Linked DNA regions of Homo sapiens. The protein of the gene in region 4 interacts with the protein of the main gene of each other region in a pairwise test. Each region holds a gene or a part of one and is shown on either strand. Other genes may lie near its edges.

Region 1 (7,296 bases), on a different chromosome or scaffold from region 4:
TCTGCCCTTCATGCTCCTCGCCCCTAGACAACTTGTGGCTAAAGCAGTAGACTGGAAAAGGAAACTGATAAAGGCAGGCAAGAAAATCCACTTCCTTTGTTTCTCCTTAGTGTGGTGCAGTGGTTCTAAATCCTAGTTGCACAGAAAAACTGAGCTTTTTATAAAAAGTGAATGCCAGGGTTCCATTCCAAACCAAATAAATCAGAATGGGAATGGAGGCCCAAGTGTTGATATTTGTTTTTAAACTCCCCCAGGTGCCTCTATATTGCAGCCGGGACTGGGAACCAGGAGTGCAGGATAGTGGCTCACAAACTTAAGTGTTCATCAAAATCACCTGGACAGCTTGTTAAACAATATCACTGGGCCTCACCCCTAGAGCTTCTCATTTGGTTGATCCTAACAAGTTCCATGATCCTGACGCTGCTGGAACCACGCTTTGAGAACGACTGGTGTAGGGGAAATGACATGGCTTTGGAATTGAACAGATTTCCGTTTTTTTTTGTTTTTTTTTTTTAATGGGACAGAGTCTTACTCTGTCTCCCAGACTGGAGCGCAGTGGTGTGATCTCGGCTCACTGCAACCTCTGCCTCGTGGGTTCAAGTGATTCTCCTGCCTCAGCCTCCAGAGTAGCTGGGACTACAGGCGCGCGCCACCACACCCGGCTAATTGTTTTGTATTTTTAGTAGAGACAGGGTTTCACCATGTTGGTCAAGCTGGTCTCAAACTCCTGACCTCAGGCAATCCGCCCACCTCAGCCTCCCTAAGTGCTGAGATTACAGGCATGAGCCACCGCGCGCAGCCTCAGTTCTGAGCTCTGTTGTCATCTAGAGGTATAACCCTGAGTGAATAACCTCTCTGAGCCTCAATTTCCTCATCTGCAATGTTCCTATGAGGATTAAGATAATGTATGCAAAGCAATAAGCACAATGGTAGGCACATCTAGGAGTTTGACACATGGCAGGGCCCTCCCCACTCCCTGGACACACACAGACCCACAGAGATTGGGGCCACCAGCAACCCTCCACCAAAGACTGGCCCCCACAGTAATGCTTGCACCTGCCTGTCTCATGTCAGCTCTGCCACTGGACTCACCTGCTATGATGGAAAGACTTCAGCTTTGGCTGCAGCAGCACAAACAGCACCACGAGGAGGAGAATGAGCGCCACGGAGCTGGCAGTAGAAGCCACTATAGACAGCGTGGGGACCCCAAGTGATGTGTGGGTGTCTTTATCTATAAAAACAAGCCATCATCAGAAGGGTTTTGTACCCAAATACACAAAACAGCTGATGGGCCCCACAGCTGATCTTGTCAAATGCCTCCTGAATGGTGCAATACAGACATCCTACGGTCAGGGTCATTTCAGGAATAACAGCTTAGAATGACCTATGTATACACAGTTCTTTTGGAAAAGGACCATTTCCCTATCCTGTTTCCTGAATAAAAAATTCCCCTCACTTCCAATCTTTGAGGTCCATCTGACACATAAACTCACTTAACCCTAGAGATTTTACCTTTATAAACCACTTTGATCCCATCCTCAAAAGCTTGAAGTTTGTAAACATCGACAATTTAACTGGGCATGTCATTCCACCATCTTAAGTTCTACCTATGTTCTTCCCAAGTGGCAGGATTAATTTACAGAAACTGGACTGTAATAAAACCTTGTCTTAAGATCCACAGCTTTAATTGTAACTCTCAGGTTGGTTCCCACCCATTTCTGGGGTGTCATGGGTTAAACATGCTCTGGTCTTGAAGCCTGAGTGGGAAGCACAAAGATGGTTATATGACACACTTTCCTGCAAGCAGGTGGATTTTCCTGTCATGCAAGACAGGAGGAAGCAGTAAGGGTGGGAGGTCTTTTGTCCAGCTGGTCTGTAGCTCCATTCAAGGAAAAATGAAATGGACGATACATTAGAGAAGGTATTAGCATTGTGCTCACTGTGAGGGCAGAACATGGTCAAGGGTCACCAACACTTGGCCATGCAAACAAGAGATCCTGAACATCAAACGGGCTTTACAGAGCAGGGCAGATGGCTCAATGAAATGCAATAGGACATGCACCAGCAACCTCAAGTATCTTCCACAAAGACATGAAGACCCAAGGAAGGGAGGCTGCAGAGCATCAACTGGGGCTGGGCTGCACCACAGCAAAGAGTGCTCTGGAGGAAGCATGCTTTGCATCCTGTGAGTTAACAGAAAGCAGAACCCCAGCAGCATCCCTTTTTCATCTGCCAGACTGACCCTCGTTGAGACGGCAGCTAATCTCCATGGCTGGTTTCCACTCGCCATTCTTACACGTCAGGTATTTGTAATCGCCCTTCAACATGTAGCCTTCAGCACACAGGTATTCGATGACACTGCCTGCTGTCAGGGGGTCTCTGCAGGGCCGGGGGTGGCAGATGTAGCCACCATTCTCTGGCTCCGGTGGTAGGGGGCACACTGCAAAGACAGGGAGAGAGCAGGGGTACAGTGGTGAGGTATCCAGTAGGAGTCTGCTCTCAGTGACGCAGCTCTGAAGGCCTCTACAGGAAACACAGGAGGAGGAAATAACCCTTTCCTTGGAGGAACTGTTAACCAAACCCTGGAAACTCAGGTTGCCACTGACAGAGGGGAAGTATACTGGCAACAGGGGAAGTGGCTGCTTGCAACATTTCCCCCTCCCTCCCCACCATGCCTTAAGAGAATTCCATCCATAAATGAACGGCAGACTCTAAAGTCTTGAACCTATAGAGATCTAGACATAATAGTTTTAATAAAGCCTGTATTATGTAATAAAGCCTGTAACACACATAATAAATCACAGTGAAAGGAGGAAAAATGTTGGCCTTGTTTCCACTATCAATGTCAGAAAAGACTCTATTGTATAATAAAAACGTGCACTCTTGGCCTGAGAGGGGATTTCTGATAGATTCCCTGGGAGGCTTCCCAAACCCCCTGTGCATCTTCCATTCTCTGACTATAGTAGTCAATGGCACCACCTGTCTCTATCCCATGATAAATTCCACATTTTCCACTGATATACAGGACTGCCTAGTTTCAAAAGCACCTTCACCTCCCGCCTTATTTGTCCTGACAACTCTGTGAGACAGCTATCGTTACTCTCCTTTGAAGAAGAAGACACTGAGGGCCACAAAAGTTAAGTGACTTTTAGCCAAGCTTACAGCAAGGTAAATGGCAGGCTTGGGGTCACAGTCAAATCTTCTGATTCTAAACCTCTGCTCTTTCCACCAGCAGACATTGCTTCTACCCCATGAGCTGCATGGCCTTTAAGGGGTATGGGTGTCAAGGTTACCTCCCCTTTGCCCTCTTGAAACTGGTCAGTTAGGGAGATGGCAGGCAGTGCCTAGGTATGGTGGGAACCCTGGTAAGTTGCAGTAATGGTAAGTCAGAGGATCTGGAAGGTCTGAGTGGACCTGAGGAGGAAAAGGACAACCTCTGATTCCACTCTGGACTGACACTGCAAAACTGAAGACCCCAGGTGGTGGACTGCCGGGTATTACCAGCCAAAACAGTAAAAGTGGGGGCACTACAGAATCACTGTTTGGAATGTTGGGCTGAGGTAGAATGGCCAGGCAACCATGAATGCAATAAAGACCAAAAGTTTTCCAAAGGAAATTCAATTTTGCTGACAAATAACCTGCCCCCATCCTGAATATCACAAGGACATCTGTATGAGAATAAGAACGGTCGTTTTCTTTTTCTCATTTCCTCTGACAGGCCTGGAGTGACTGAGAGTCACACCACAGTGCCTGACTGTCCAAGATAAGGCAGTTTCTCATCCACGAGAGGGGCAGACCACACCACCCTGCAGCTGTGCCCTCACAGCCTCTCTCACCCATGCCTCTTCTTTCCAATCTACAAATGGCTGTTAAGCAAGCTGACTGCCAGCCAGGTTGGGGAGTGGACACCAAATGGAAAAGAGATGATGGCTCCCTACCCTCAATTTGCTTATCACTTGAGATGGGGAGAAAAGGCACTTTTTCTTTTCTTTTTTTAGGTGATGCCACTAAAAAAAAGATGCCATTTTTAAAAAGCTATTAACAAAACAAAGCTGGGTAGGTGCCACAGGGATCCAGAGAAGTCTGGCAGCTTCTCTGAAACTAGGAGATGAGCTCCAGTAAGCTCCCCCCAAGTCCCCTCTAAGGACCCAACTTGTCCCTATTCTCCTCCACCACCAGAGTCTTGAACAGGAGAAAGAAAAACGCAAACACTCCTTCTGGTGCTCTTTAACTTTGGCCAAGTAGTTCAGAGCGCTGGCCAGCTAGATTTCCAAAGAAACCTCCGCAAACTGCTTTAGCCTTTACACTTTCCCTCTTTTGTTCAGGGCAGCAGGCCTGCCACAGATCTCCCTGACTTACTCCCTGGCTCTCCTTGGACTGTGTCTAATTGGTTCATTTCCGTGGCATAATTAATGCTGAGCACCCCATGGCAGCTCCTGAAAGCAGGCAGGACCCACACACAAGTCCAATGTGCTGGGAAGGACAGTCTCAGGGGAAGAGCTGCTGATTCTAAAGCCACTCCTGCTTTGCTGGGTATCTCTTTCCATAAAACCCACATCTCCACAGAATCTTTGAGCGGGATCCTGGCGGTCACCTAGCACTCATAATAAGTCAAAAAAAAAAAAAAGTGAGGACTGCAAAGAAGTGACTTGTAATTCAGTTTAATTTCAATTCAACTAATACTTACTGATTCTGAGTAGGGGGTCACTGTGCTATGCTCTGAAAAAGGACAAAAATATAAGCACCTCAGGTCCTTCTTGCCAAATAGGGATATGACCATTAAGTGCACACATATATTTAAAAAATCATTCTCTTTATGGCTTCTGGATTAAGGACTCTTTCTCTACTCTGAGTTTATAAACATACTCTCCAGTATTTTCTTGTAATGCTTTAGGGATTAGGTTTTTGTTATCTAAAATACTTTTACAAAACAAAACAAAACAAAAAAAACAGACTCATGGGAAATATACAAGGTATTAAATTCAAAAAGGGTGCACAGTGTCCCGTCACTGGGTTCCTCTTTCCAGAGTCACTGCACCAGTTTCTACCATATTCTTCCAAAGATACTCTATATACAAATTTATTCTAACACATGTCAAATAATGTGATTTGTGCCACAAGAGAGGAAGTTCAAAGCAGGAATAGGGGAGCCTAGGAAAGGATCTCCGAGGAAGTAGCACTTCAGATGGGGCTTCACTTCATCAGGAAGGGAGGTCATAGTTTGAAGTAAATGCACTGAAGTGGGAAAATGTAGGTTAACTTCTGAGAACAGCAAGCAGCCCAGTTTGGCTGGGTTGAGTAATTTTTTAAAAGTCCAAAAAAATAACATGAAGAGTGATGAAACCATCTTGTAGAGGACCTTCCTTACAAAAGGAGATATTTATAATTATAGTCAAAGAAAAGGGGGAGCCGCTGAAGGTTCTTGAGAAGGGTAGCATTATAAGAAAAGCAAATTTATAATTTGATATAAGATGGACTAGAGGTAGGAGAGACCCCTTAGATTATGTCAACATTATAGCAATCCTAGTATTGATACAGGAGCTAGAAAGAAATTATTTAGGCAGATAGTGACGGCAAAAGAGTCCTCAGCAAGGTTTCCCTTTTAAGGAAAAGCAGCCTCAAAATCATTTCTTTTCTAACAAAGAGCAGCCTGAAAAATCGAGCTGCATAGATAAGCAAGCTGGAAGCTTGCACAGGTGAATGCCAGCAGCTGTGCCAATAGAAAAGGGCCACCTGGAAGCCAGGTGTGTTCAGAGTGGAGGCTCCATGTTCCCTTTTCTTTGTCACCACGTGTACAGTAAGGACCAGGCAACATGGTGCCCACCAGGTAGAGAACCCATCTGCATAATAAAAGATTAGGGTGGGACGGCCAGCTATTTCACAACTATGCAAATGGCACACATGGTCCAACCAATCTTTCGTCCCCTATGTAAATGGTCTCCTCAAGCTCATCTATAAAACCTTCTTCATTTAACTGCAGAAGTGCAACCCATTTTCTCTGGGACCCCTCTCTGTGCAGAGAGCTCTTCTCTTTCGCCTATTAAACTTCCACTCTTAACCTCACTCTGGTGTGTCTGCATCCTAATTTTCCATGGCTGTGGGACAATGAACCTCAGATATTACCCCAGACAACAACACCGCTTCAGTATGGCAAAATAAACTCAGTACAAAAATTATTTTATGCCCATCTATGAAGGTCATAGAAAAGAAAAAAGCTGAAGTATGTCATAAGATGCTCCAGGTTCAAAGAAGAAATAAGGATGCCTAAGAAGAAAGGGTCCAAAAAAAAAAAAAAGGCAAGTCATTTTAAGACACTAAGAACATGTGAAAAGGCTGGGTACAGTGGCTCACGCCTACAATCCCAGCGCTTTGGGAGGTCAAGGTGGGCGGATCACTTGAGGTCAGGAGTTCGAGACCAGCGTGGTCAACACGGTGAATCCCCATCTCTACTACAAATACAAAAATTAGCCAGGTGTGGTGATGCACACCTCTAGACCCAGCTACTCAGGAGGCTGAGGCACAAGAATTGCTTGAACCCATGAGGCAGAGGTTGCAGTGAGCTGAGATTGCACCACTGCACTCCAGCCTGGGCGACAAAGTGAGACTCTGTTTAAAAAAAGAAAAGAAAAGAAAAGAAAAAGAACACATGAAAAAATATGATCCTCTTGACCAAGAGCAGAGTCCTGGCCAACAGCAGGTGTTGAAGAGGACCCTCTCAGTGATGCCTGGGAAGAACACTAAAAAAAGGCAAAACCCACATGGCAAAGAAATTGTTCAGTGGCTTCCAGAAGCCACAGTCTAGGCAAGAAACTGTCTTGATCTGTGCACCAGGATCATTCTCTGACAATTCCAGGTTCGCAGAAGGAAGCTCTGTACTTAACTCTGGGAAGACAATGAACTCACCTGATGTGGCAGTGCCACATAATTTTAAAAAGAAAAGGAGAAAGCCAGACAATTTTACAGGGGGAAAAAAAATCAATGAATTATCTTTAGCTTCCTCTCTGCTTTCCATTCTGTCCCACAGCCACATAGGCTTTCAGTGAGCACAGGGAGTGCACACAGTAGGCATTCAGTCAAAGTCCACCCTGGTAACAATGCAGATGAGACGCAAAATGATCTAGCTGATACTTCCACCACCTCCGTCGCCTCAGCCTGACACCCTCAGCAGAAACTAACTGCTGAGGACCCTCACCAGCCTTTCTAAAGGTTCCCTGGTTTTGTTGGTTTTGCAGGCCAACCTTTCAGAAGGAGGCAAATTAAAACAAAACAAACTTTTACAACATTCCAAAACAAGCA
Region 2 (8,244 bases), on a different chromosome or scaffold from region 4:
CATCAGCTATCATTAGGGTTAGTGTATTTTATGTATGGCCTTCTTCCAATGTGGCCCAAGAAAGTCTAAAGATTGGACAGCCCTGTTCTAAGAACAAGGACATCAAGCTGCTTCTCAAATGGCTCAGAAGACTTCTGTTTGATTGCCTTAGCATGCTGAATTTCACACCACTCCATAACTTAATTCAACATTTCACTATTTATATCCTGGAGCAAAACTGAATGCATAAACTAAAACTCATCAGATAAACACTAAGCCCTAGCTGTTGGTCTCTAGAGAATAAAACACCAGCAAACTAGCTGCAAAAGAACATTATTTTTATGCCAATAAAACCTATGCAAAGCTTTAAAATGTAAGCCATATTCAACAATTTAAATTATTTTAAATTTGAATTTGTATCTCTTTGAAAGCATTGAATCGAAACAGACAACAGATGGACAAAAAATACTGCCTTTGGAATCTGACAGTTCTAAGCCTGAAGCCTACTTTGCCTTCTACTCACTAGTATGACCTTCAGCAAAATTCTAAACCTCTCTAAGCCTCAGTTTTCTTACCTGTATGACCAGGCACAACCAATTACGTCATGGGGTTACTGTGACAATTAAAGGAGGTATGTCCAAACAGCCCTGTAGTAGATGGTCCAAAAGTGAGAATTGGCCAGGCGCGTTGGCTCACGCCTATAATCCCAACACTTTGGGAGGCCAAGGCAGGCGGATCACCTGAGGTCAGGAGTTCGAGACCAGCCTGACCAACATAGTGAAACCCCATCTCTATTAAAAATACAAAAAATTAGCCGAGCATGGTGGCGCACGCCTGTAATCCCAGCTATTTGGGGGGCAGAGGCAGGGGACTCCCTTGAACCCGGGAAGCGGAGGTTGCAGTGAGCCGAGACTGCGCCATCGCACTCCAGCCTAAGCAACAGGAGTGAAACTCCGTCTCAAAAAAATAAAAAATAAAAAAGTGAGAACTGCTACAATTACATTACTATTTTGTTCCAAAAGCTAGAATTCAGGTTTAACTGTCTACAACTCCTCATGATATCCCAGTTCTCCAGCTCTCTTTCGCTATAAAAGTGGCTTCCTTATGAAAAAGGAAGAAAACTCATCTCTGTTCTTCAAGGGCAACAGTGGAGAGTCAAAGAGATGTCACAGGTACATTCTGAAACAGAAGGGAAAGAAGGTTGGGTGACCCATCAACATGTAGAGGTCAGTTCCCACGTGGCATTGGCCATTTCCAGTTGGGAACCACTTCTTAACAACAAGCCTAATACAAGCACCATCAAAGGGCAGACAGGCAAAGAAAGCAAAGAGGCAAGGAAGTCCAACTTTCCGTTTCCATGATCCACTGTGGAAGCAAATATATAACTAACAAAACAACTGGGTCAATTAGCCCCCACTTTGGGAGCATTTTTAACAGTGTGTTTTGCAGTTTTTGGTAGTTACTGTTATTAATAAGGTAATTCTTTAATTTCTTTAGACAAACAGTAAGAAGGCAGGCAGAGGAAAGGAGAAACAAAAATATTAATGCAAGCTGAAAAGCATAAGCAAAGCTTTCAGAAAGAGCTGAGAGAAACCTCCACCTTCCCAAGGAGTAACACCACAAGAGTATCTGTCCTCTCTATACCACTGCTGTACACATTTAATCAACTCAGTCCTTGAGAATAGCAGGAAATTTACTTACAGAATGTACCACCGCCTTTAAAATATAATGCTAGCAAAGAACCGCTGTCAGGTTCTGAGTTCTTTTCTGCAGCCTTCTTCAATAAGCATTTACTGACCACCTACAAAGTGCCAAACACTATGCTGTTTATTAGGGAAACCCTGCAACACAGTTTGATTCCTGTCCTCAGGGAGATCAGTACGAATAGGGAAGAGTCGAGTAAAGAGATCACCACCACAGAGAGTAAACACCAGGCACAAAGGAAGCCCAGACAAGCTCCAGTCCTATCAATATCCAGCCAACCAGCCCAGGGTTAGGAACTTTCTGAACCTAGGGAACACTCCTGAGCACCACAATTGAACCGTCACAGCAGTATTCCCACACCCCCACAGGTCCTTAGGCAGACACACCCACTGCATGGGCACAGACGCACAGCTGTGTCTGTGCATACATGTTTTGGTCATTAGTTTAGTCAACAAATACTGAGGGCCACACTAAACAGGCAGTTACCAGTGCCAGCTCGGGTCCTAATTCCTCATGTGACTTCGGACAAGTCACTTCCTGAATTGGTACTGGTTCATACCAAAGGCCACAGAAGACCTTGGAATATTCCTCCCCTCAGCTGTCAGCCCTCCTCCCTCGGTGGTGGTTCCACCCTTTCCTAAGCACTAAAAATTTAAAGGCTGAGACCATGAGTCAGTATTATTTTGAATTAACCATGTTCCTTTAATTTTTTACAGTGACCACTCCACCTCATTCCTTTCCTCCACCCACCCTGAACCGGTCTACATTTGAGATTTAAGCGGGGTGGCGGGGCGGGGATCCCTATGCAAATCCCTGACCTCCGGAGTTTTCAATCTAGTTGAGTAACAGAATCAAACATGAAGAGAGATATGTAAGATAAGGTACACCAAGCACTTATGACTAAAGACATTGCAAGGCCAAGAGCAGGTGAAATGCAGCGGGGGCGGACCGCACCGCGAGGGTAAAGCCTCAACGCCCCCCGGGACTTAAGGAGGGGAGACCTCTGGGCAGGAGAACTGAGAAGGCAAGTTCCCTGGAGCAGAGGGAGCAGCAGGGGTAGAGATCGGACGCCGGGAGACCCCAGGCGGCGGGCCGCAGCAGGTCCCGGCAGTCAGACATGTGGGACACTCCCGAGCGGCCAGAAAGGATGCAAGGCGGAGGCTGCAGTCGGGAAAGGAGGAGGGTCCGCGGGGCCGGAGAGGAGGGGCTCGGGGAAAGGACCGGAGGCGGACGCCGGGGAAGCGATGGGAAGGGGTCTGAGAGGCCGGGGGGGCCCACTGGGAGGGCTCTCGAATGGGCTGCTCTAGGGGAGACTGAGAGGGCGGACCTGGGGAAGGTCAGGGTGGTCCAGGGAGGTGGGCGGACCCGTGGCCAGGAGCCTCAGGGAAAATTAGGGAGTGGGGACACCGCGGAGGTGGCGCGGTGCGGGGTCCCCTCAGAGGGGCGCGAGGCTGGGCAGCTCTAGAGGAGAATCTGGAGAGGCGCGGGCCAGAGGGGAAAGGAGCTAGGGTCGTCCGGACTAAACAGGGACACTCACCTGCGAACCAGCGTGGAGAACACCAAGACGCCACGGCGATTCCTCGCCTGCTCGCCTGCAACTGCCGCACGTCCGGCGTCCTGGCCGCCGTTCTGACGTCACGCCTCGGCGCGCATGCGCGGCGGGCCCCGGCCGGTGGGGCGGGGTGTCTGGGTGGTTTTCTGAGAAACGGGACGGAAGGCGGCAGGGGGCGTGGGTCTCCCAGGAGGTCGGCGCTTCCACTAAAAGGAAGTGTTACAAAGTGAGATCCTGTCTTAAAAATATAAAAATTTAAAAAAAAATTGTTAGCACCCTAATCTTGGTTTCTAAATACCGCTCTCTAAAAATAGGGCCAAGGCGCCTTAGAGAAATGGGCGACTCTAGGACCCGGGCGCAGAAAGCTCCAGCTGAGCCGGGAGCGTTTTGTAGGCCAGAAGCTTGAGGTGCTCAAAAAACTGAAGGACCGGGCGTCCAAGGGCGCAGGGATCTACCCAGAGAGCTTCCGGGGGCCGCGCCTGGGACAATTTGAGCAGCAATATAAAGTACATTGCATTAAGTTATAACCTAAAGTATAAAACAGCCCAGAGCCCGTGCTGCTATAAATACGTGATTAAATAAATGAGGGAGAAGGGATAATCTTCCTTGCAGAGGAATTCTAATAATACCTCATCCAGAGGGGTGTGGTAATCCGTCCACACCCACCCTGAGTGTGGCCTATGCCTGGGGACGACCTTTCCAAGAGTACAGTGTGGAAAGAGGGCTGTAGAGCCACTCCACGTGAAAATCAAAGTGATTAGTCACTGCACTTGCCCTTGACATGTGATTAAAAAAAAAACCGTGACCTCAGTCTAACTGAAAGATAAACATCAGACAAATCTCGTTTGTGGGATATTCCTCAAAACACCTCACCAGTACTCCTCAAACTATCAAGGTAATCAAAAGCAAGAAAAAAACTGAGACACTGTCATATGCAACATGGTGATGTAGCTAGGCTATAAACTTAAAATAAAATTTAAGTTTAGGTAATAGTAGTTTTTAGTTATAAGAAATGTATAATGGTTATGTAAGATGTTAACATTAGGAGAAATTGTGTGAAGGGTATACTAGCTTTATAACTTTTTTGTAGTCTAAAATTATTCCAGATGAAAAGTTGGGGGTTTTCTGAAGACAATAGAGGGAAAATAAATGTTAGCCAGGTGAGATGGTTCATGCCAGTAATCCCAGAGCTTTGCGAGCCAGAGGCAGGAGGATTGCTTGAGCCCAGAAGTTTGACCTGCAATCAAGCCACTGCGTTCCAGCCTAGCAGGGGTTGGGGGGTGGTGTAGGGGTACTGCCTGGAAAGAGGCTTGAGAGAGCCTCCTGGCAACCCCACTCCTAGGGTGCTGAAAATGTTCTATACATTGATCTGAGTGGTGGGTACGTGTGTGTAAGTAAAACTTTATCAAGCTGAACACTATACTTAACATTTGTACATTTTTGGCCGGGCACAGTGGCTCACGCCTGTAATCCCAGCACTTTGGGAGGCCGAGGCAGGCAGATCACGAGGTCAGGAGTTTGAGACCAGCCTGACCAACGTGGTGAAACACCGTCCATACTAAAAATACAAAAAAAAATTAGTCAGGCCTGGTGGTGCGCTTGTAATCCCAGATACTCAGAGACTAAAAATACAAAAATTAGCCAGGCGTGGTGGCGGGCGCCGGTAGTCCCAGCTACTTGGGAGGCTGAGGCAGGAAAATGGTGTGAACCCGGGAGGCAGACGTTGCACTGAGCCGAGATCACGCCACTGCACTCCAGCCTAGGCGACAGAGAGACTCCATCTAAAAAAAAAAAAAAAAAAAAAAAAGATTTGTACATTTTTCTGTGTATAAATTATATCTAAATTTAAAAGGGAAAAACTCTTAAAAAAAATATTGGAAGAGCCCTATTATTATTGGTCTTCAAAACCCCAAACTCTGCCAATCAGGGCCCCTGTCTTAACCCAGCTCCTCTCTGGGGAAAATTTAAAAAATGCAGGGTAGGGAGTCCTATGATGCCTGCAATCCCATCTTTTGCAAGATATTATAGCTTAGTCAACACAAGAGTTCAGAGATTTGTGTGACATGGGGTTCTTCCTGGTTCCGCTGCTTCTGGATGAGCTCGGGTAAATTGCCTGACATCAACAAGCTTCTTGACCAGCCCTCATTAAGGCTATACTAGCCCTGACCACCTTCAGGGTCAGTCTTAGGGACCTTTCAGGGTCTGAGTTTGGAGTATCCAAAAATACACTAACACATTCTCTCTGAGTGATGGGACTGTGGATGACATTTCTTTTTTCTACTTTTCTGCATTTTCCAAGTTTTCTTTCATGAATATGTATCACTTCAACAACAGGAAAAAGTAATATTTAAGGCTGGGTGTGATGGCTCACGTCTATAATCCCAGCACTTTGGGAGGCCAAGACAGGAGAATTACTTGAGCCCAGGAGTTCAAGACCAGCTTGGGCAACACAGTGGGACACTTTCTCTACAAAAAAATAAAAATAAAAAAATTAGACTGGCATGGTGGCATGCATCTGTAGTCCCAGCTACTTGAGAGGCTGAGAGGGAAGCTTCACTAGAATCCGGGAGGTCAAGGGTGCAGTGAGCCATGATTGTGTCACTGCACTCCAGGTTGAGCAAAAGAATGAGACCCTGCCTCAAAATAATAATAATTTTTTTTTTGAGATGGAGTCTCACTGTCACCCAGGCTGGTGGACAGTGGCACCATCTAGGCTCACTGCAACCTCCGCCTCCTGGGTTCAAGCAATTATTCTGCCTCAGCCTCCTGAGTAGCTGGGAATACAGGTGTGCGCCCCCACACCCAGCTATTTATTTTGTATTTTTAGTAGAGACAGGGTTTCATCATGTTGGCCAGGCTGGTCTCAAACTCCCGACCTCGTGATCCACCTGCCTCGGCCTCCCAAAATGCTGGGATTACAGGCGTAAGCCACTGCACCCAGACAAAAAAAAAGTAATATTTTAATAAAGTTCAGTTTAAGTAGGCGTTCCAGTACCTGGAGGAGGGAGTGTCCCATAACAAGTTTTCTGATTCAGTAAAACTGGCTTTCTGGGCTGGGCGTGGTGGCTCACGCCTGTAATCCTAGCACTTTGGGAGGTCGAGGCATGCAGATCGCTCGAGGTCCAGAGTTCGAGACCAGCCTGGCCAACGTGGTGAAACCCCATCTCTACTAAAAATACAAAATAATTAGCCAGGCGTGGTGGCGGGCACCTGTAATCCCAGCTACTTGGGAGGCTGAGGCAGGAGAATAGCTTGAACCCAGGAGGCGGAGGTTGCAGTGAGCTGAGATTGTGCCACTGCACTCCAGCCTGGGCGACTGAGTGAAACTCCAACTCAGAAAAAAAAAAAAAAAAAAGAAAGAAAAGAAAAACTGGCTTCCTGTTCATGTTTATTGAGAAGAGGCCAGGGGAAAGAAGGCTGGGTGCAGGTGAGGACGCCTGCTTTCCAGCCCCCTATCTGAATGTGCAGCCTCTTGTCTGAAACTGAGAGGGAGAAGTCCAAGAGTTCAAAGAGTTGCATTGGGACTCTGTACCCATCAGTCACCTGTCTCTGTGGCCCTCAACTGGCTCAAACCAAATTACCTGCTGCTAAGCCCCACTCCATTTCTTGCCCAGTTACTAGTATGCGTTTCTTTATTGAAGAAAATAAAGTGAGAAGTTCTGGTGGTTAAAAAAGAAATTCCAGGCCAGGCACATTAGCTCACACCTGAAATCCCAACATTTGGAAGGCCGAGGCAGGAGGATCACTTGAGGCCAAAAGTTCAAGACCAACCTGGACAACATAGTAAAACAAAATATACAAAAACATAAGTAAATTTAAAAAAAAAACTCCAAATAGAACATGAAGTAAAATACCATGTCTCCCCTGCTACACCCCACATAATTGGGAATGTGGAGCTTCCAAGGAATAGGAGATAACAGGCACTCTTCCTTTACTTTTTCTTTCTTTGTGTTTTTTTTTTTTTTTTTTGAGACGGAGTCTCGCTCTGTCGCCCAGGCTGGAGGGCAGTGGCGGGATCTCGGCTCACTGCAAGCCCCACCTCCCAGGATCACGCCATTCTCCTGCCTCAGCCTCCCAAGTAGCTGGGACTACAGGCACCCGCCACCACGCCCGGCTAATTTTTTGTATTTTTAGTAGAGACGGAGTTTCACCATGTTAGCCAGGATGGTCTCCATCTCCTGACCTCGTGATCCGCCCGCCTCAGCCTCCCAAATTGCTGTGATTACAGGCGTGAGCCACAGCGCCCGGCCGAAATTTTTTATATGTATAAAAGTAGCCAGGGTGGAACAGTAGGATTTCAGCTGCCCCACAATGTTTACCAACACCCAGGTCCATCCCAAACAGACACACAGCACTAGGGAGAAGAGCAGGGGCAAGCAATGCAGAGTGCAGCGCAGGAAGCCGTTCCAGCATGCTGGCTGCACCTTTGCTTCTCCTATACGGAAACTTTGTAACTGCTTTTTGGGGTGGGAAACAATGAGTTTTTGCATGCCTAAATTTTACTTCATTTTGCCCTCAACATCTACTAAGAAGCCATGGCTTTCTTCAGACAGTGGAATCCATTTCTTTCTTTCTTTTTTTTATTTTTTTGAGACGGAGTTTCACTCTTGTTGCCCAGGCTGGAGTGCAATGGCTCGATCTTGGCTCACCACAACCTCCGCCTCCCAGGTTCAAGCGATTCTCCTGCCTCGGCCTCCCAAGCAGCTGATACTACAAGCACCCACCACGACACCCGACTAATTTTGTATTTTTAGTAGAGACGGGGTTTCTCCAGGTTGGTCAGGCTGGTCTCGAACTCCCAACCTCAGGTGATCCGCCTGCCCCGGCCTCCCAAAGTGCTGGAATTACAGGCATGAGCCACCACGCCCGGCCAAAGACAGTGGAATCCATTTCTTTTGAGGATAGTAGTTGGGGTTTTGCCCACTATAAACAGGAAGCTGCCCATGTACACAAGAATGGAGAAATAAAAAGGGGCACAGCTGTGGTACAGGCAGCCTTGCAGTTAATGT
Region 3 (8,086 bases), on a different chromosome or scaffold from region 4:
ACGGGAGGCAAGGGGCTCCCGCACAGCTGCCAGCTGCTTCCCTGCCAAAACACCTGGAGCTGCTCCTCTGCCTCTCAGCAACTGCTTCAGGTCAGGCTGGGTGAATTTCCCAGGGAGCCCGTTTTCACTGGCCAGGCCAATGGCAGCGGCCATGTTTCTGCCTTTTCAAATCATCGAATCAGGCAGGACCACAGGATGCAGTTCTGCCCACGGAGAAGCCAGAGCAATACATGGGGTCCATTGTGAGGGGTCTCCCTGCTGCTGGCGGCATACGACCCCGCTCCCTCTTCTTTCCAGCTTGCAGACTGCTTGTGATGGCAGAACACGCTGAAGGGAACCGAGCCTTTCGCAACAGGAAAGCCACCAGGCAGGGCTTGGCTGCAGGACTGAGTGGCTCAGTGGCAGTCCCCTAGTCAGAGTGTGACTTCTTCCGCCTTCTGGACTTGAACGTTGCACCTCTTTGCAGGGGCCCTGCAAGCCCTGTCCCTCCTCCCCCATGCAGGTTTAAAAAATGTTTCCTGGCCAGGCACGGTGGCTCACGCCTGTAATCCCAGCACTTTGGGAGGCCGAGGCGGGCGGATCACGAGGTCAGGAGATCCAGACCCTCCTGGCTAACACGGTGAAACCCCGTCTCTACTAAAAATACACAAATTAGCCGGGTGTGGTGGCGGGCGCCTGTAGTCCCAGCTCTTAAGGAGGCTGAGGCAGGAGAATGGCGTGAACCGGGGAGGCGGAGCTTGCAGTGAGCCGAGATCGCGCCGGCACACTCCAGCCTGGGCGACAGAGGGAGACTCCGTCTCGAAAAAATAAATTAAAAAAATAAAAATAAAAAATGTTTCCTGTGTTCAGATGCACAAGCAAGGACAAGCTGCTGGAGGCTGCAGGCCTCTCTGACTCTAAGGAAGATCATGACTGGGCTGCGTTCTCAAGTGACCACTGGAACTTTCTTCTCCAGCTGGGGCTCCCACCTGTTCAGCAGCCCCTCCCTTGCACCACCTGCACTTGGACCATGAAGACCCACCCACTCCTCATCCTCATCCCAAAGGACTCACGCCTGCCACAGAAGCTGTGACCTGTAAGCCACTCCCCCAGTCCTGTTTCCAAATCTGTATCATGAGAGTAACAACCGTGCCACTTGCCAGGGCGCTGAGGGTTAACTGAGGCTGGCCCGTGGCACGTGGAGAGAATTGCATCGGGCCCACCATGAGTGCTCCGAGAACCACTGTCGGCCCTGGTCGCCCATCCCAGTAACAGCAGAACAAGAAGTGGTCCTGCCTGAACCCCAGCCCTGGACTGGGCCAGCCTGAGCTCCAGAAAACTGCTCCCTCCCAGGCCTCCCTCCGCGTCAGCCCTTTAGACAGCCGGTGTCCTCACGGCTGGGTGCTGACTGTCACCGACACTCATCGGCAGAGTAAGTGAGCAAGCTCTGGGGCCCAGGCAGGGCTGCTGTCCTCCTGGGGGCTGAGGGCCTCCCTACTGGCTCCTAGCAGGATTGACAAGCATCCTCTGAATGAGGAAAAGAAACCATGGTCCTTCTGTTCCCATCCCAGGCAGGGCTGGGGGAAACCCCCGGGGGCCCCGGTACACCCTCCCACCTCACTTGCAGCAGCCTGAATCATGTGCTCTCTGGCCCATCAGGGCCCATCTCCTACTCCTTAGCTCACGACCCTCCTTTTTCTCCCTCATTCAGACCAGCCTCTGTGAGGTAGGACCATCAGCCAGTGCTCCCTCGGCTCTTGGGCCAGCTGCCCAAAGTGCTGGGATTACAGGCGTGAGCATTCAACCCACCCACCACGTCCACCCGGAGGCCAGGGGAGCCTGCACACCCAGGCCAGTCACGCACCGCGGGGCCGTCCCTTCCCTGTGGTAAGCAATGGCCTGCTCACCCCAGGCCACGCCAGGGGAAGGACGACAGGGTCCTGCACAGCCCTCAACCAGGATCCAGCCGGCCTCACCACACACCACACCTGTACCCAAGAGATGTGTGTGCTATCTCTGCCCTGCCACGGCCACACCTGCCCCCACCCAGACCCCAAACTCAAGGTTGGGACAGAGGAAGGGAGGCTGTGGGGTCATCCCAGGAGGCCCAGTGGGGCCAGGAGCCTGACAGAAGCACCTACCACCCGGCTTCTTCCGAGGCCCCACAGCCTCAGGCGGTGCAGGGTCAGGGCCACAGCACCATCACCTGTCCCAGGAGGCTGAGAGGACAGAACAGAGACTGTGGGTTCTCAGCAGGCACAAAATCGGTGCTGTTACCCACGCGCGGGCCCAGCGGTCAAGGTCCAGCGGCAAGTCCAGGGGCTGTGGCACAGGCCAAGCAGCCCAGGTGGTTCCCACAGGAGGCCAAGGTAGAGAAGTCCCCGGCAGGGACGCGGCACTCACAGCCAAGGGCCGGGCAGAGGCAGCCTCACCTCGCGGGCCGGCCCTCACCTCCAGGGCGCCCTGCCAGCGGCCACTGCAGCAACCCGATACCCAGTCCCCGAGGCCCAGGCGTCCACCTCGGCGGGGGGCCGGCGAGGCCTGCTGGCGGGTGGCAGGGGGCGCAGGGAGCCGCAGCAGGTGTCTGCACCCCGCCGGGACCGCACGCCCGCGCCAGGAGCGGCTCTGCAGCGGGAGCGCCTGCGCCGGGAGCCAGGGTGCGGGAAGGAGCCCAGCAGGTGCGAGCGCGGACGGGGAGGGTCGCAGGCCTGCGTGCGCCCGCGCTCAGGGCGTCCTCCACAGTGGACCCGCTTCAGGCCCCGCCGGGACCCCGCCGCCCCTCGGCGAGAGGGCAGGAAGGGCAGACGCGGAAGGGCGGCGCCGCCCGGACCTCCCCGGCGCCGCCGAGCCCGCTTCCCAGCAGTCCCGGGCGGCGAAGACAGCGACTCCGCGGGCCCAACCCGGGGCCAGGCGACGGCAGCCGCTTCCGGGAGCCCTGGCCCCGCGCAGGTGCGGCCAAAGGCCCTCCCCGAGGACCCGCGCCCACCTCGGAACGGCAGCGGTGCCCCCAGGCGCACGCGCACGGTCCCAGCCAACGGCTCCCCGGGGCTGTAGACGACGCGGCCGTGGCTCAGGCTGATCTCGAAGAGCTGCACTCGCCCCATGCCGCGGCCTCACCGGCCAGCCGCGCAGCGACGCCCCCGCCCGCCGCCCGCGAGTCCCGGCTCCGAGGCCCGGCCCCGCCCCCTCCTATGCCCCGCCCCCATCCGTCCCAATCCCGGCCTCCACCCCCATCCGGCCCCTCCCAGGCCCTGCCCCGCCCCACGGCCCCGCCCAGCCCCCCGGCCGCCCCGTAGCCCGCGGACTGCCGCTCGGAGGCCCGGCCCAGCCCCTATTCCCCGCCCCATCCGTCCGTGTGGCCCCGCCCCCTCGTTATTCCCCGCCCCTCTGACAGCCTCCTCGCCCCGCCCCCGCCCTTCGCCCCTGCCTCGCCTTCCCAGCTCCGCCCCTGCCTCGGCCGCCCCACCCCTGCCCCGCCCCCCGGCCGCGCTCATCCATCCCCGGCCCTGGCCCTGTCCCGGCTGGGTAGGTGCTGCGCTGCGTCGGGCGCCGCTTAAGGGACTTGAGGCGCAAGCGTCCCGTGCGTCCCCCACGGAGGGAGTCACCGCCGCGTCTCCGTCGGGGGGCAGGGCTGGGGGCGGGGCCGAGGCGAGCTCTGAGACTGGGAAGGTCTCCCCGCTGCACTCTGCTGCGGGCAGAACCCACTCCTCCGCCCCCACCCTCCGCCCGTCCCGCCCAGGGGTCTCCCTCACCCCGAGTCGCGGAAAAACGTCACGGGGCCGCGCGGGCGTCCTGGGCGGGGATGCTCCGCCGCGTAGGACCTGCCCCGCCTCAACCCCCACCCCCGGCTCCTGCCCCGCACCCCCAACCTTCTCCGCACCTACCTCGCGTCCCAGCACCTGTCGCGCCCCTCCGGAACCTGCCCGCCCTCCCGCCTTCCCGGTACCTGCCTACCCCCGCAACTGTCCCGGCCCCCAACACCTGCATCGCCCAACCCCTTCCCCCCCCGCCCCCTGCCTTCCCCGCACCTGCCCGGAGTCCCAGCACCTGCCCCGCCCCCCGCTATCCCCCTCCTTGCTGGCCTGATGGGGTGTGGGCCCAAGGGAGCCACACTTGGGCGGAGGCCCTTGGGCAGGGGTCCGCAGCAGAAGGGTCGGGGGCCAGGTGGGGCGAGGACTTGGATCACTTGAAACCAGGAGGAACACACTCCCATTTATCTTTTTTAAAGGGTCCCTTTGTAGAGAGTGAGCCGCGGGGGGTGGGACTCAAATACCCAGGGGACCTAAGGCGGGAGAGACCGGTTGGGTAGTCCTGGAGAGGGAAGGCGTCGCTCGACAAGGACCAGCTCACCACGGAGTGGGTGTGCGGGCCCCAGTGCTGCGAGTTTTTCTAGGACAGCCGGTGAAGAGGGTGGCCTTCTCTGATGGGGAGGACGGACCTAGATACACATGGTTTGGGGGTGGGAGGGTCATCACATGCAGAGTCTGAGGTGCCACTGATCCCCAATGGACCAAGTACTTCCGTGCATGAGCCTGGGAGTCAAGCACTAAAATGTTGCCATCCCTAGTTGGTAGAAGGTAACAGGTCAGGGAGGAGGAGTCTGGCACCCCAGCAAAGAGAAAGGGGCTCACAGGCTGGAGGGGCCCCCGGGCCAGGCTGGGAGAGGCCCTGAAGCCCCAGGCCCAGCTCACTCCCTTAGGATTCCGATGTTTCCGGAGGTGGGTCTAACTGGCCATGCTCCAGACACTTTCCTGCCAAGGCTATGCACAGGCAGAATTCCCGAACAAGAGAGAAGGGTGCCATGGGATGGCAAGGATTGTGGACAGCCCTCCCGAATGGCAGTCGGCCATGCCAGAAGTCAGAAAGAAGGTGTTTCACCGGGCGCGGTGGCTCGCACCTCTAATCCCAGCACTTTGGGAGGCCGAGGTGGACGGATCACGAGGTCAGGAGATCGAGTCCATCCTGGCTAACATGGTGAAACCCCGTCTCTACTAAAAATACAAAAAGAAAAAAAAAAATTAGCCGGGCGTGGTGACAGGCGCCGTGGTCCCAGCTACTTGGGAGGCTGAGGCAGGAGAATGGCGTGAATCCAGGAGGCGGAGCTTGCAGTGAGCCAAGATCACGCCACTGCACTCCAGCCTGGGCAACAGAGTGAGACTCCATTTCAAAAAAAAAAAACAGAAAAAGAAAAAAAAGAAAGTGTTTCAAGCAAGGGACAGACAGACTGTATTGCAAGCTACTGAGATGGAAGACAATGGACACAGAACACAGGTGGCCTTTATCCCAGGTCAGCCACAATCTAAGCCCCACAGGACTCTGCACATCCTTGATTCTGACCCTATCTCCCACCCATCCTGTGTTCCAGAAACCACCACCAGCACCAACCGCCCTGTCATTAGACTCTTCTTCTCCAAGCATACTTCTAGCTGCACTCTCATGAAAACCTGGCTTCCCCTGGAGCTTTCGGGTGTAGAGATATCTTTTCGCAGGATCCCTCTACCTCTGGGTCTGTAGGTGGGGTTGGGGCCCTCCTGGCTCCTTCCTAACACTACCAGGCCATTCTCCACCCTGGGAGCTACCATGTGTAAGCTTCCTGGTCTCAGAATCACCAGCACCACCTTCGCTCTGGTCGGCATCTTCATTTCTTGGTGATTTTAGCTCCTAACTCACTGTCATTCCCTCCATCTCCAAGTGTGGAAACTCAGTGCTTCTGAATCCACACAGGCAATCCTTCCAGCCTCCTGCCCTATATCCTAAAAGTACCTGGGTTTTGTTTGAATCAGGTATAGTAAAGTGACAGACTAGAAGACAAGTGCCACAAAGGAAGGATTTAGTACTCGTGGTTCTCAGGAGGAGGGGCCCTGCCATGCCACGCAGGGCCAGAAGGGGAAGTACCAGGGTCAGGAGGAGCCAGGAGAGAGCATGACCCAGAGCCTTTTTTGTGTTTTCCTCAGGGTGAAAATGGACAAGGCAGGGTAGGTAAGTGTGAGCAAGTTTAGGATTAGATAGCTTGAATCATGTCAGCAGACTCTAGGTCACAGCAGGGGGCTCTAGCCGTCTGGTATCTGTCCCTGGGGGATGCAGGGCAGGAGAAATGCTGGCTTGGGGTGTGAGAGTCAGATCAGGAAGAGACTGGGGATATGGGCTCTGGATTGGTGTTTATAAAGTTGTTTGCTAGCTCTGGGGATTAGCCAGCCCTGGAAGGGGCAGCATCTCCCTGACTAGTAAAGCCCCCAAGATGTCAAAGCATAATAACATACAGAAAAGGAAAAGTGTGGGCCGGGCGCAATGGCTCTGCCTGTAATCCCAGTACATTGGGAGGCCGAGGTGGGCAGATCACCTGAGGTCAGGAGTTCAAGACCAGCCTGGTCAACATGGTGAAATCCCATCTCTACTAATAATACAAAAAAAATCAGCCGGGCATGGTGGTGGCACACGCCCGTAATCCCAGCTACTCGGGAGGCTGAGATAGGAGAATCGCTTGAACCCAGGAGGTGGAGGTTGCAGTGAGCCAAGATTGGGCCATTGCACTCCAGCCTGGGCGACAAGAGTGAAACTACATTTCAAAAAAAAAAAAAAAAAGGAAGGGAGGGAGGGAAAAGAAAAGTGTGGTAAACACGTGTCAGTCTCATGGTTCCTCCTCCAAAACCCTCCTCTACCTCAGCAGTCTCCTTCCTAGGGCGTGGTGGTCCCTCCTCAAAGATCCCGCCCACCTTTGCATCCCTGCTGCTCTTCCCACCGGGGGGCTTCCCCTGGAACCTAGGCTGGCCCACAGCTTGCGTTAACTGGAAGAATTGCAATGAAACAGGCTGGGCGCAGTGGTCCATGCCTGTAATCCCAGCACTTTGGGAGGCCGAGGCGGGCAGATCGCTTGAGATCAGGAGATCAAGACCAGCCTGGCCAACATGGTGAAACCTCATCTCTACTAAAAATACAAAAATTAGCCAGGCGTGGTGGCACGTGCCTGTAATCCCAGCTACTCAGGAGGCTGTGGCAGGAGAATCACTTGAGCTCGGCGGGGGAGGTTGCAGTGAGCTGAGATCACGCCACTGCACTCCAGCCTGGGTGACAGAGTGAGACTTCATCTCAAAATCAAACAAAACAAAAACAGTCAAGGCTGGGTGTAGTGGCTCACATCTGTAATCCCAGCACTTTGGGAGGCTGAGGCGGGTGGATCACAAGGTCAAGAGATCGAGACCATCCTAGCCAACATGGAGAAACTTCACCTCTATTAAAAATACAAAAATTAGGCCGGGTGTGGTGGCTCACGCCTGTAATCCCAGCACTTTGGGAGGCCGAGGCGGGTGGATCACAAGGTCAGGAGATCGAGACCATCCTGGCTGACATGGTAAAACCCCATCTCGACTGAAAATACAAAAAATTAGCCGGGCGTGGTGGCGGGTGCCTGTAGTCCCAGCTACTCGGGAGGCTGAGGCAGCAGAATGGTGTGAACCCGGGAGGCGGAGCTGGCAGTGAGCCGAGATCGCGCCACTGCACTCCAGCCTGGGTGACAGAGCAAGACTCCATCTCAAAAAAAAAAAAAAAAAAAAAAAAAAAAAAAATATATATATATATATATATATATATATATATATATATATATATATATATAAATTAGCTGGGCGTGGTGGCACGTGCCTGTAGTCCCAGCTACTCGGGAGGCTGAGGCAGGAGAATTGCTTGAACCCGGGAGGTGGAGGTCGCAGTGAACCAAGATTGCGCCACTGCACTCCAGCCTAGTGACAGAGCGAGACTCCATCTCAAAACAAACAACACAAACAAAAAAAGAAAGTCATAGGAGCAACACACATTCACGTGGAGGGGAGAATTTGATGGTGACAATTGACACAACCTACCACCCTAGCCAACAACAGCAGAACCAACCAGCTAAGCCCATCCTAAACTACAGAATCATGAGAAAATACATAGTTGTTTAAAGCCACTAAGTTTTGGGGTGGTTTATTATTATTATTATTATTATTATTATTATTATTATTATTTTTGAGACAGTCTCACTCTGTCGCCCTGGCTGGAGTGAAGTGGTGCGATCTCGGCTCACTCCAATCTCCACCTCCTGGGTTCAAGCAATTCTCCTGCCTCAGCCTCT
Region 4 (7,296 bases):
AAAAGATAAACTGTCAATATTCCATGTTTATTATGAAACCCACATGTGTGCATAATCTTTTCTCATCAGACTTTCCCTGATCCACCCAGGCAGCTTCTGACAGGTGGATTCTTTCTCTTTTCCAGGCTCTTGACCAGACTCCATGAGTAGAGGCAAGAATTGGACTTTTTCTGGGACACAGGATTTTCCTGTGGGATTTAAGCCGCAGCTCTCCAGCCACTTGTGGCAAACTGAAAATATCAATCTTGCTTATGCCAGTGAACCAGAATTAGGGGGATTTTTCTGGCAGAAATGTCTCTTTCTTGAGAGAAGAAACGCAGAGTCACACAGCAAGCCCAGGAGAGGACTTGGGCCAACTGAGTGAGAATCTACAAGGACCACAGGACCCAACTCCAGGCCGGGCCATGGAAGCAACAACAACCAAACAGCACAAAAAACTGCAAGAGCAATAGGGGACTCAGGACCCTAATGTCCACAGCGTTGGTAAGGAGAAGAACACACTCGAGGAAGCAATAGTTCCTTGTTAAGCCCATAACACTTTGAGAGAATTCGAAAGGGCAAAGATAAAGTCTAGTTTCACTGCTAAATTGGAAATAGTAGGCTATTTCTTCTCTTGTAAACTGTTTTCTACCCAGCAGTAAGTCTGTCAGTTGACACTAAATATAAAACATGAAAAGATGGTGGGGAAAACTGAACGGCATGATCACCATTATTTAGGTCCGTAACCATTGTTTCATTCTCCAGCTCAATCGTGTATGACCAGCAACTGTCAATGGAGGGTCACTTAAGAAAAATGCAAGGTTCTGACGATTATCCAACTCACACTTACCAAAGTGATTGATGGGGGTTTCTGAAACCACTACAAGTAGCAGTACCTGCTCGTGGATGCCAACAACAGCCTGCCTGGCATTGTCATGTGCATACATGTGCCATTTGGATACGACATGCCAGTAGCAAGAAAAAATAGGTAAAAATCATACCTCTCTGAGCAATCAACATTAGCAAGTAGGAGGTCACTGGAGTGGAGTAGAATGTGGGTCACTCGAGGGAAGGTGGCCGGCTGCATCCACAGTCATTTACCCATCCAATAAACATTTCCTAATACCTGTTAGGAGCCAGAAACTGAGACTAAATTTAGCAGAGTGTCTGGGTTTTGACAATCCTTTGGGTTCTCAGTCTGACTTCAAAGTTCCCCATGAATCCACAAGACAGCTAAATCAGTATTGCCCCCATTTTAAAGCTGGGGACACTGAGGCCAAGTGTACCTGTTAGAGGCCACACAGCATGGGAGCAAAACAGGGCAGAGCCGATCTACCTTCCACCACATGGAGCCATTTCTAAGGAAACGGAGCTGAGGCAGCCAAGATGGACGCTTCCTGGACTTCCTCCTGGGCCAGCCCTGCCCCTGCTCTGAGCACGTCTAGGTCCGGCTATTCTTCAGTCCCACCTCCTCATGAAGCCACTGCCTGGCTTTGTTCCTCAATGAGCCTGCTCACACTGATACTCCTAGCCCTTCGAATACGCTGGAAGCCACAGTTTCATTAAAAAATATATTTTCTGATAATGTGATCATAGAAAACTTAGAAAATGTGGAAAAGAAGAAAATAAAAAATCATCCATAACCCTGAGCGCTTTGGCCACGTGCCCCTCTGGGAGGACAGGTGCATCCACTGGTCCTCTATGGAGTCCTAGCCTCTAGCACAGTGAGTCGTGTGGATCAGGTACTCAGTGAATGCTTGTAATTTTACCAAAACCAATGTTGATAAACTTTTGACTTACCCTTCTAATGCCTTTTCATGTTGAAATCACTTAGCAAATTGTTTTCTCTCTCCACCAATAATCTAAGGTTCCCCCCAACGGTAACCTGCTCACTTCTCCACAGTATTTTGTCTAGTATCCTCATCCTATCCACATCATACTAACATTGACTTAGTGCCTACCGTGGATAACGCACTGCACTGAGTACCCAACAAAAACTCCATTAATCTTCACTGCAACCCTAAGGGAACTATCATCATTAATTTTCTAATTTTACAAATGAACTGAGAAACAGAGAGGTTAAGTAACTTGTCTAAGGTCACACAGCCAGCAAGTGGTAGAACTGAGACTTAAATCCGGGTAGCCTGACAACAGACCTTGGGTTCTTCATGACTGTAGTACCTGTTCCCTCATAATTGGGTTAAGAGATGACAAGCAACCCCCTGCAGAACATGCTCACAGAAATAGCTCTCCCAAGAACCAGTAGAGTGCAGTAGGCAGAGCAGGGGACTGCTCTAAGATGAAGGTAAAAACACTCCTCCTGGGGCTGGCCCACGATAAACAAAAAAGCAGCTGCATGGATTGATCAGATTCCCATGTATTTTCAGGGAAATGATGTGCTGGTTTTACCCACTTGATAACCTGTAGCATTTGGGTAAGCGTTTCAACAAATACGTTCAACTGTGATGACAGCAACAAAACCCCTACCTATGTCTTATCTGTAACAAACCTCCCTTACGTAAAACAAACAGATAAATGGTGCCATTGGGAAGCAGTGCTCTATTTGGTGGAGGTGGAGAGTGTCAAAGTTTCTCCAGGGATCTCTGTGGTCCTTTATTCGGGTTTGTGACGCTCCCTCTCATTCAGTCTGGGGCGCATCCTGACTGGGAGAAACTTGAGGCCTTCAGCACTTCATCTTTACCAGTCCGGGAAGGTGCCTCCCACCAGCCTTGCCCTCAGGGGTAAACCGGCCCTGCCAGAGGGCGGCCCAGCCCACAAACCTCCTCACCAAAGGGCATGCTGTGCCACGTCAAGGCCTCCTCACCTGGGGAGCCACATCCCTGCCCACAAGGTAAAGTTCCACTTCAGAAAGGAAACCTGGAAGCCCAGCAACAGCACACCAAAGCTGTGGGCCCACGTGACACATCTCAGCGCCACCTGAAAGAACTTCCTCAACCAATCCAACTGCTTTCAGCTGCACATCCGGATTTCTTTTGGACCGCATTTGTTTCCTCATTTAACGTGGCTAGCCTGGTTGCCAAAATACAACCAGAGCCTCGGTAAGGAAAAACAGCACAGTGACTCCCGGCTGGAGCTCCCCTTCCCAGGTGAGCCAGTTCTGCAGGGAGGGGAGGCTGCCTGCCACCACAGACGACACCCACAGAGACCAGCTGGCGGCAGGTCAATGAGTGAGCCCCTGTGAGGAAACCTGCTGCAAAGCGAACCTCAGTTGCTAACGGGTATTCTTCTGGTTAAAATTTACAGGAATCCATTTCTTTTTAATTTTGCCTAATGTGATCTCCCTTCTTCGATGTCTAACAGGCATTTAAAACACTGACATGTCCAAAACTGAGCTCTGACATTACCAACCCCAAACTCCCCACCACCCGCCCCCGCAGCCTTCCCCATCTCAGTAAATGACTAGGCCATTCCCTTCACTGCTTGGGCAAGAAACTCAGGGTCAGCCTTCTCTCCCTTTTTCCCACATCCCACTTCTGATCCACCAGCAAGTCCAGCTGGGTCTACTCTCAAGGTATCTCCAGAATCCAACCCCTCACCCCGCCTCTGCCGTGACCGTCCCAGTCCAGGCCACCACTATCTCTCACCTGGATGACAGCAATGGCCTCAATGGCCTCTCTGTCCCTCCCCTAACACAGCCTGTTCTCAACACAGTCATCAGAGGGAGGCTTTCAAGATGTGAAGTCAGGTGACATCCCTCTTCTGCCTAACCCCTTGGGGGGCTCCCCATCACTCCAGAGTAAGAGCCCATGTCCTTCTGTGACTCCTGGAATTCCTCCAGCTCACCTCTCTCTAATTCCTTCAGCCACACTGGCCGCTCCTGCTCCCTGGACACAGGTGTTGTCCAACCCCGAGGCCTTCATACCTGCTGCTCTCTCTACTGAAAATGCTATTCCCCTAGATTTTCTCATGGCCCACTCTGTAGTCTAAGTTTTTCCTCAAATGTTACCTTCTCAGCAAAGCCTTCCCTGGTTCCCTACTCAAAAATTCCAGGACCCCTGACACTTTTTACCCCATTCCCTGATTTCTTTCCTTTCTCTTTGGCACTTAATTACTAGCATCATTTCACGACATTACGTGTGTCCTTGTCTATCCTGTCTCCCCCCACTGGAGCACAGGCTCTGTGAGATCTAAGCTTCTCATGCTTTAGTTCCAGTGCCAGGAACAATGCAGTACACAGTGCCATGTACCCAGTGGGTACCCAAAACATATTTATTGAATGAATGAATGTGGGACAGACTGGTACTTTTAAGTCAAGTATCTATTTTGAATGTGCCAAACTGGCTTAGAAAATTAACAAACAAAAAAGGGATTTCAGTGGTTTTTGTCACTCTATTTGATTTCTGTCATTTGCTTAAGCAAATCAGAGTGACAAAAGCCACTGAAATCTCATTTCTTACAATGGTGCACAAAGTGACTGGGTCCAACTCTTTCATTGAGAATGACTAAAAAAAGCTGAATTAAATATGAAAAATACCTTCTTAAATATAAAATATTAACCAGGAGAGGGTAAGCCAAACATAAAAAGCTGCTTTTATCCTGGGGGCATTTGCTGACCTGGAAGCAGCAGCTAGAAACTTCACTGCTTTCTCAGGCTACTCTAACAGTTTTCCAAAGGAGCAGACTATACACCATCCCCACTTGAAGCTGGGCCCCCAGAGGCCCACACCCTCAGAACGAGGAGGAGGCACAGGAGGCCAGACCCGCATCCTGCCTTCTCACCCCCGGGAGCCATCAGAGAACCACAAGACTTAAACTGTGCTAAGGTGTCTCAGACTAATAGGCCCCCAAGTCCTGACGGAAGCAAACAGAAATCCTCTCTGGAGTAAGGTACTGTCATCTCAGGCCTCACTTTATTCCTACATGTAAACTTTCAAATACAATAACTAGCACACAAAGATAATCCCACACACAGAGAAACAAGATACCAGGTTTGAGAACTAGCAGAAACAAAAGAAGACCAAACAGACTTACAAAATGAAATATCATCAGACATAGTCTACTATGCAACCAAGCTTACTATGTTCAAAGAAACAGAAGACAAGCTTGAAAAACGCAGCAGAGAAGGAGACAGCATTAGAACAGATTTGAAAAATAAATAGAAATTCTAGCAAATACCACTGAACATGTGCAGTATTTACAGTGGGCAGGGAATCGAACTTAGGGGAAACACTGAGACACTGGTGATGGGACTTTATCTTCCAATGAAGATAAAGGGAAGTAGGTAATCTTCAAAATAGAAGTGAGCATTCATTTTAAAGGTTTATCAGCTAGAATGAAAACAGACTGTCAGCTAGCCACAGAAATACACATTCCTAAATCCCAAAAGGGGAAAACAAAGCAACAGTAGCTCATAACAGAGACTTTTTAAAAATAGAAAAGAATAGAGCCAGTATCCAGTTTCATCCTTTTCCATACCCACAAACGTGGAGGTATTAATATAACCTGTATACAGCTTCCCAGCAATCCCCAAATATACGCCCCACTATTATAAAAGAACCTCCATTGGGCTTGCAAGTGCCATGGTTCCAAGTCTCCTAGAGGAGAACAGGAACACTCAGTTGTCTCATAAAGGATCTGTTTGCTTCCCCCCCCATCAGGGATTCTCAACTCAAGTGATGCTAGAAATAACCATCATCCCTGCAGCAAACAGCTGTGTCACATCCCGTCCCCCTCCTCCCGCCCTCGGCCTCCCTATACTGGCTGCTATCTCTAAGCCACAGGACAGACAAGAGAAAAACAATTAGTCATCCCAGGTTTTGCCCACCTTCCCCACCGCCCCTGTTATTCTAAACACAATCACCATAGAAAACAAGCTGTGGTGAGAAGCCAAGCAGGCACCTACAGGTCTGAAAGACTTGAAGACTTTTTCCAGGACTTCGTGGAGCGTCTTCTTGCCGCAGGAGGAGATGTAATCCTGTGCTAGCTGCAAGAAAGGCAGGCAGTCCTCGCTCTCACTCCACACGTGCTGCGTGCCCACGGGCGACGGAAGGAGAAAACAAAGACACACAGTCACTACACTCAGTGTGAAGTTCAGAAAAGCCAAGCAGATTTTCTTAATAACATCAATTTGAAGAAGGCCTCCATTCTACAGTAAAATTCATACATGCGTTCTTGATTTGTTTGCGTTGAAAGGGAAGAAAAAATGTCTAATCTATAGAAGCCCCCGAGCTTTTGGTCCATACCTCACCTGCTCTGTTCATCATCAGATCTGCTCCTACACAGTAAAGAGGGCAGTGGGTGGCCATTCCTCACCAATGATTTCCACTGTTCACCTTGTGCAGGCTAAGGGCGGTTTTCAGACATGGGGAAGGAGAAACCAGAGCCTTTGCCTTCAAAATCCTTAACTTTGCTTTCAGCTACGGCTGAAAGATTAATTAAGCATAGTTTGTAAGCATTAACTTGGAACAAGACATTCTTTACCCAGATCGGCCTGTGAGTAGGCGTGGTGGTAAATTTACTTCCAAATGCAAATAACTTAAGAGAACCCACCAAGTCACCACTATGTCACTGGAAAACAAAGGCTTTCTGAAAACTTCCCTTCCCTAAAATGCTTTAAAAGGACATCATACCGAAGCATCATTTCACAATCTAACACATACTAAGAGGAGATCGGTTTTAGATTTTTTGTTTCTTTTTCTTTTTCTTTTTCAGACAGGGTTTTGCTCTGTTGCCCAGGCTGGAGTGCAGTGGCATGATCTTAACTCACTGCAACCTCTTCCTGCCAGATTCAAGTGACCCTCCCATCTTGGCCACCCAAGTAGGTGGAACTACAGGTGCGCACCACCACACCTGACTAATTCTTTGTATTTTTGGTAGAGACAGGGTTTCGCCATGTTGCCCAGGCTGGTCTCGATCCACCTGCCTCAGCCTCCCAAATTGCTGGGACTACAGGCGTGAGCCACCATGCCCAGTCTAGGTTTTATTTTTTCTGAAGACTGGGTAAGGCTTTTTTCCATGTGAGGATATCCATTTTAGCACATCTTTAAGACTAGGCAAGCCTCTCTCATAAATGTTCAAAGACCTGGAACAAGGCCAAGAAATAGGTTTGAGCATTCTTAATGCAGAATACCCTGCCCTGCATATCTAAGCAAGTCAGGGACACGGGGCTTCCAGGGTAACATCAGAGTATCTGTCAGGTACCAAGAATCACTCTTTAGTGGGGACGGATCCAGGATGGCTAAACACTGGCAAAAAAAAAAAAAAAAAAAAAAAAGTATTGAGGTCTGGGAGAAAGAAAGACATCTGGCAGATAAGAACAAGATGCAGCGGCCAGATAGCAGGATAGAAGACTTATGT

Evidence for each region.
Region 1: the proteins of MTURN (region 4) and SUSD6 interact in binary tests that used the Homo sapiens proteins (3 or more experiments, as listed by UniProt).
Region 2: the proteins of MTURN (region 4) and PLEKHB2 interact in binary tests that used the Homo sapiens proteins (3 or more experiments, as listed by UniProt).
Region 3: the proteins of MTURN (region 4) and ARRDC1 interact in binary tests that used the Homo sapiens proteins (3 or more experiments, as listed by UniProt).

The regions. Positions count from the first base shown.
Region 1 is NC_000014.9:69,698,539-69,705,834, reverse strand, and holds part of SUSD6 (sushi domain-containing protein 6 precursor), read right to left. Parts: intron 2,441-7,296; coding exon 2,243-2,440; intron 1,232-2,242; coding exon 1,093-1,231; intron 1-1,092. UniProt on the Homo sapiens protein: May play a role in growth-suppressive activity and cell death. May be involved in the production of chemokine molecules in umbilical vein endothelial cells (HUVECs) cultured in THP1 monocyte LPS-induced medium. Plays a role in preventing tumor onset.
Region 2 is NC_000002.12:131,100,375-131,108,618, reverse strand, and holds the start of PLEKHB2 (pleckstrin homology domain-containing family B member 2), read right to left. Parts: upstream 3,284-8,244; 5' UTR 3,221-3,283; intron 1-3,220. UniProt on the Homo sapiens protein: Involved in retrograde transport of recycling endosomes.
Region 3 is NC_000009.12:137,600,715-137,608,800, reverse strand, and holds the start of ARRDC1 (arrestin domain-containing protein 1), read right to left. Parts: upstream 3,116-8,086; 5' UTR 3,084-3,115; coding exon 2,966-3,083; intron 1-2,965. UniProt on the Homo sapiens protein: Functions as an adapter recruiting ubiquitin-protein ligases to their specific substrates. Through an ubiquitination-dependent mechanism plays for instance a role in the incorporation of SLC11A2 into extracellular vesicles.
Region 4 is NC_000007.14:30,144,846-30,152,141, reverse strand, and holds part of MTURN (maturin), read right to left. Parts: intron 5,966-7,296; coding exon 5,843-5,965; intron 1-5,842. UniProt on the Homo sapiens protein: Promotes megakaryocyte differentiation by enhancing ERK and JNK signaling as well as up-regulating RUNX1 and FLI1 expression. Represses NF-kappa-B transcriptional activity by inhibiting phosphorylation of RELA at 'Ser-536'.